Linked DNA regions of Homo sapiens: region 1 is linked to region 2. Evidence: fine-mapped expression QTL. A gene starts in region 2. The other region holds a variant in brackets. All regions are shown on one strand. Distances are between the middles of the regions. Region 1 overlaps PLA2G4A (phospholipase A2 group IVA). Region 2 holds the start of PACERR (PTGS2 antisense NFKB1 complex-mediated expression regulator RNA).

What was found. PIP is the estimated chance that this variant, and not a neighbour inherited with it, causes the effect.
Region 1: its variant is fine-mapped to the expression of PACERR in whole blood (INTERVAL, PIP 0.96).

The regions. Positions count from the first base shown.
Region 1 is chr1:186,977,225-186,980,146 of GRCh38, forward strand. PLA2G4A (phospholipase A2 group IVA) reads left to right here. Exons shown (of 18, transcript NM_024420.3): 16 at 369-564; 17 at 2,091-2,248. Among named protein-coding and RNA genes, the nearest start is that of LINC01036, 110 kb to the right of the region's middle. The variant G/C (reference allele first, on the strand shown) is at 1,373.
Region 2 is chr1:186,679,461-186,682,382 of GRCh38, forward strand. It overlaps PACERR (PTGS2 antisense NFKB1 complex-mediated expression regulator RNA), which reads left to right and starts at 1,194. Exons shown (of 1, transcript NR_125801.1): 1 at 1,194-1,986. PTGS2 (prostaglandin-endoperoxide synthase 2) reads right to left here and starts at 963. Exons shown (of 10, transcript NM_000963.4): 1 at 779-963. The coding sequence starts at 830.

The DNA.
Region 1 (2,922 bases), 300 kb after region 2:
ATCATCAGATTCCTTTTTTACTCCTAAGGGTTAAAAAAACTTTCACATGGTTATAAATTCTCTGAACCCATAATTTTTTTTCTCTAGCAGCTTCTTCAACATAATTTTGCTCAGTTCAGTTTATCAATAATTTTTCAAATGCCTGCTGTGGAGCTAGCCTTGTGCCAAGAATTAACATAACAATAGTGAGTTTGTTTTCAATTTCTTTGAAATTAATGAACTTCCTGAGAACAGGGTCGTGATTCATCCTAGCAAGGAGTACATTGCTGGCACACAGTAGACACCTAGTGAACACTGAATTATGGTCAGACCAACTGAATCAATGAAAACTGAAAATTTCCAAATTCATCTTTCCATCTTTCCCATAGGAACTTCTACTTGCAGAAAAGTGGGCTAAAATGAACAAGCTCCCCTTTCCAAAGATTGATCCTTATGTGTTTGATCGGGAAGGGCTGAAGGAGTGCTATGTCTTTAAACCCAAGAATCCTGATATGGAGAAAGATTGCCCAACCATCATCCACTTTGTTCTGGCCAACATCAACTTCAGAAAGTACAGGGCTCCAGGTAAGTAGGGAGTAAGCTGTATTCCATAAAATAGAAATTAAGTAGGGGACGAAACTGACATTAAACTGTTTCACTCTGTCACTGCTGTACCAGCTATTACACTATTGAATGCTTCCCTTACCTTGATAAATAGATACTATTCTGAGACCTCAAGTACTTCTCCTCTTTCTTACCCCAAGATCCCCTGACTTGCTCACAGTTCAGAAACTGCAAAGTCAACAACCAGTTTAGCAAAAATCTCTGGGACTTTACTTCAATACTTTGAATTATGTTTGTTCTGATTGATTTTTAATCAAATATTTTGACTATCACCCTTGTAAGAAAGCCCTTATTTCAGAAAAATCATGCAAATTTCTGGGAATTTTACGTGACTACAAGATTAACGTAATCTAGCAGTACACAATGGCTAGCAGTTTCAGTTTGCCATGTTGTATTTCACAGAAAACAAGAATCAAGTTTGAGGCATAGTCTTTTTTGTTTTGTTTTATTTTTTTAACCATATCCAGAGGGGTCTCTCGACTCTTGTGTATCCTGGAAAATGTTGATTAACCAAAGGAGATCTAAAGATTTACATGCAGGGTGCTTAAGGCTCCAAAAACCATATTTTAGGACCAGAAAATGTGTTTTCCATTTTATAAATGGAAAGACACAAAAAATAGGGAGGATGAGTAATGGGAATATGCTGAGAAAAATGGTGTTTTTCTAGATTTCTCAGGAAGACAAAGAAAGAATTGATAGGAGTGAAGATTATTGTGAAGCATATAGTTCAGCATAGGAGAAGGTGGAAATCTGACATTTTTAGTTATCA[G/C]ACACTAGAGCACATGAAACCCAGTGAATTTTCTATCACTGTGAATTCTCAAGGAGAGGCTCACTGAGCAGTTGGCATGTGTAGGGGATTTCCATGGCATAAAGACAGCCACATAATGTTTTAGTTTGGGTTCTCCCAGAAACTAATTCTGAGAAAAGGACTCAAGTGCAAATAGTTTATTTAGATGAGCTGGGGAACACTCTAGTTTATTAGTAAGGAAATGGGGAAGTGGTAAAGGGAAGGAAGGCAGACAACAAAGTTGCATTAGCAAGCCGGCTACCACAATGGGAACTTGATCCGCTGGGAAAGACTACAAAATGGAATAGACCTGTGTCCCACAATCATGCTTCCCACACGCACACCAAAAGGCAGGGGAATGGAGTATTTAGATTCTAACTCCCTAGAGTCTTTGGTTGACCACTGCCTGGGGAACAGTGTTATTTAACAGAATTTCCAGCCTGCTGTGAGTGGGTCAAGCAGGCTTCTACAGTTGCAGGGCAGGATAGAAAGCCCTCCGGCACACAGATGTCAGATATTGGCAGTTGGATGTCATCTGGCCAGAACACACAGACACGATAAAAGTCAGAGATGCTACAGAGTACCTGGCTCTGTGGGGACTCCCACTGCTGTCTTTATGTCTGTATGTTTTATTCCTTGGGTTTTAGAGATATTTTGTAGTTTTCAAAATAACACCCTTTGTGACTCTTCTGGTATTTAGGTGTTCCAAGGGAAACTGAGGAAGAGAAAGAAATCGCTGACTTTGATATTTTTGATGACCCAGAATCACCATTTTCAACCTTCAATTTTCAATATCCAAATCAAGCATTCAAAAGACTACATGATCTTATGCACTTCAATACTCTGAACAACATTGATGTAAGTATCTCCTATGGCCATTGACTATGTCAAATGACTTCCATACCGTATAAATACACCAATACCTCTTTTCAATTAAAAATAAAAAAATAAGTGTTATGAATGACACCACCCAAAATATGCCACTTTACTTTTCATGAAATATTTTGCTAATCTTCAGAAGAACCCTACAAAACTGACAAATAAGGAAACTCATTTTATGCTATTATTTTATTGAATGATTGGTTAATACTCAGTTTCTTTCCCGAAGTATCTATGTATTTATTATATGATATAACAAATTATAAGTAAGGAAGAAAAGTGATGAAAAGGAAATATGAGTAAAGGAAATATGAGTATGAAAGTGAATGGAACCAGAAGTGTAGTTAATCTGCAAAAATATAACATGAATTTTAATAAATACATTTATGATTTTACATATTTTCTTTTTGTGAATTTGAGAGCAGCATCACAAAACGTAACAGCATTTCCTTTTTTTTTTTTTTTTTTTTTTGAGATGGAGTCTCGCTCTGTCGCCCAGGCTGGAGTGCAGTGGCGCAATGTCGGCTCACTGCAAGCTCCGCCTCCCAGGTTCACGCCATTCTCCTGCCTCAGCCTCCCGAGTAGCTGGGACTACAGGCGCCTGCCACCACGCCCGGCTAATTTTTTTGTGTTTGTAGTGAAGACGGGGTTTC
Region 2 (2,922 bases):
AAATCATTCTCTAGTGTCTTAATCTTAATTTAAACATTTAATTGTTTGACTATGAATCAACTTTACAATAATAAATTCAAGAAATATATAGGTAGTCATGGAAATACAATTTTTTAACCTGCCTTAGAATGGATAAAACGTAGAAATACCAATTTTCTATTCTAAATAAGGATAACAGCATATTCAACTTGGTACATCATGTTACTAAGCTTTTCTTAGTTAACTCTTTAGATGTTAAAATTAGCATTTTTAAGAAGTTCAAATAAGTAGCACTTCACTTTCCAAATTAAAATGGATCTAGTACACTAATCAACATTTAGGGAAAAATTCAAAGTAAAACAGCTTACTTTTAAGACATTTTGCTTATCTTAAAACATAATCCGGGCTTTCCTGGGAGCAGGAAAGAACTGACTAGAATATTTAAAACAACTTCTTCCACTCAATAAAAAGGTTCCAAATATAAACAATTCACATATATTGATCAGATCCTGTCTTATCATAATGACAACCTGCAAATTAGTATCATCTATCCCTATTTAGGAGGTGAGAGTGTCTCAGATCGGTTAAGTAACTGGCTCATAATGATCAGTGCTTGTGGGAAAGCTGGAATATCCACGGAGTTCTTTCGAACTCTAGCGGTCCAAGCTCTTTCCCAAGTCACGTAGCTTCTCTATTCGGAGAGAAGTCGGAGTACTGGGATAGACCCAGGAGGTCAGAGCGGAAACTCTGCCCGGGTGCGTGGAACCGGAGTCCCCGGTGCGCGGCGCCAGGTACTCACCTGTATGGCTGAGCGCCAGGACCGCGCACAGCAGCAGGGCGCGGGCGAGCATCGCAGCGGCGGGCAGGGCGCGGCGCGGGGGTAGGCTTTGCTGTCTGAGGGCGTCTGGCTGTGGAGCTGAAGGAGGCGCTGCTGAGGAGTTCCTGGACGTGCTCCTGACGCTCACTGCAAGTCGTATGACAATTGGTCGCTAACCGAGAGAACCTTCCTTTTTATAAGACTGAAAACCAAGCCCATGTGACGAAATGACTGTTTCTTTCCGCCTTTTCGTACCCCCCACAAATTTTTCCCTCCTCTCCCCTTAAAAAAATTGCGTAAGCCCGGTGGGGGCAGGGTTTTTTACCCACGGAAATGAGAAAATCGGAAACCCAGGAAGCTGCCCCAATTTGGGAGCAGAGGGGGTAGTCCCCACTCTCCTGTCTGATCCCTCCCTCTCCTCCCCGAGTTCCACCGCCCCAGGCGCACAGGTTTCCGCCAGATGTCTTTTCTTCTTCGCAGTCTTTGCCCGAGCGCTTCCGAGAGCCAGTTCTGGACTGATCGCCTTGGATGGGATACCGGGGGAGGGCAGAAGGACACTTGGCTTCCTCTCCAGGAATCTGAGCGGCCCTGAGGTCCGGGGGCGCAGGGAATCCCCTCTCCCGCCGCCGCCGCCGTGTCTGGTCTGTACGTCTTTAGAGGGTCGAGGAAGTCACGTCGGGACAGACTGGGGCGAGTAAGGTTAAGAAAGGCTGACATGTTTTATGTTTTAGTGACGACGCTTAATAGGCTGTATATCTGCTCTATATGCAGCACATACATACATAGCTTTTTAAAAAACTCTTATTTTGTGGAATGAAATAGCTACCTTCAGTGTACATAGCTGTAATTTATCTTTGTAGCTAAGTTGCTTTCAACAGAAGAAATACTGTTCTCCGTACCTTCACCCCCTCCTTGTTTCTTGGAAAGAGAGGCGGGAAAGGTAAATTCTCCTCATAATACTGGTCCTAAGCAGTTACCCTGTAAATAGTTAATGTGAGCTCCACGGGTCACCAATATAAAGTTTCCTGCCTTCTGATGGACAAAGGAAGCGGCGATGGCCAGAATTTGCAGGGACGCTAAATGTCCAAAACGTATGCCTTAAGGCATTTCTCTCCCTGATGCGTGGATTATTTTGGTTACTAGCCCTTCATAGGAGATACTGGTAAAATAAATTCGAGTTTTAAAGTTCACTCTTTTGTCTTTTCTGTCCACTTTTCCAAGATTATGAGTTGTGACCATGGATCAAAGTACAACATAGCATTTACTTTTCAGTTGCCTGGGCTTATTGGGGCTAATTTTCTATTCTCGTTTTGGAACATAGTTGGATGAGGAATTAATTAGATGGAAGGGAGATTTTGACAGTTGGAATTTCATCTTTGCTTTTGTTTAACATCTATCATGGGTAGTGCTCAGGGAGGAGCATGTGAGGGTGAGATACTAAAAAATATATATATGTATATGTGTGTGTGTATATATACATATATATATACACACACACCAGAAAAGAAGTGGAAAATAGAAAATTCAGTTATGTCCTAAGTCCTTAGCATTACAGGAAAATGACAGCATAAAACCTGAAATAAAACTACACCAGGTACCTCAATTTGTAGAAGTCTTATAAGAAAAAAATAAATAAGAGACTCACTTGGAGGTTTTTTTTTTAACTGTTTTGCTTAGTGTACACATCTGATTCTTCATGAGACACGGATGACTAAAATTCCATCTCATCTAGGAAGCCTTTCTCCTCCTCTAGTCATATTTCATCATTCCATTTATGGCACTCCTATTTATTGCATGGAATCTTACATGAAATTTCAACTAAGAGCGTGGATCATTTTCTTTTTGATAATTTAATAATTTCAATCTTCTGTTTCATTTTAAAGGAGTAGGTTGCATCTACTGAAATTTGAAGTTTATAGTTAGAGCTACTAATGTTAGTTTGGGTTAGAAGCCATGTTAGAATCCATACTGTGAGAGAGTACTAAAATTTTACATTACAATCCTGAATTCATTTTGAAGTGATCATCATCATTGTCTTCCTTATCAGACATTAATTGTTCTGTTGTCTGAAAAGAGATTTGGATACAAAAGTGAGGGAAAAACAGGGCATAAGGAATAATTATATT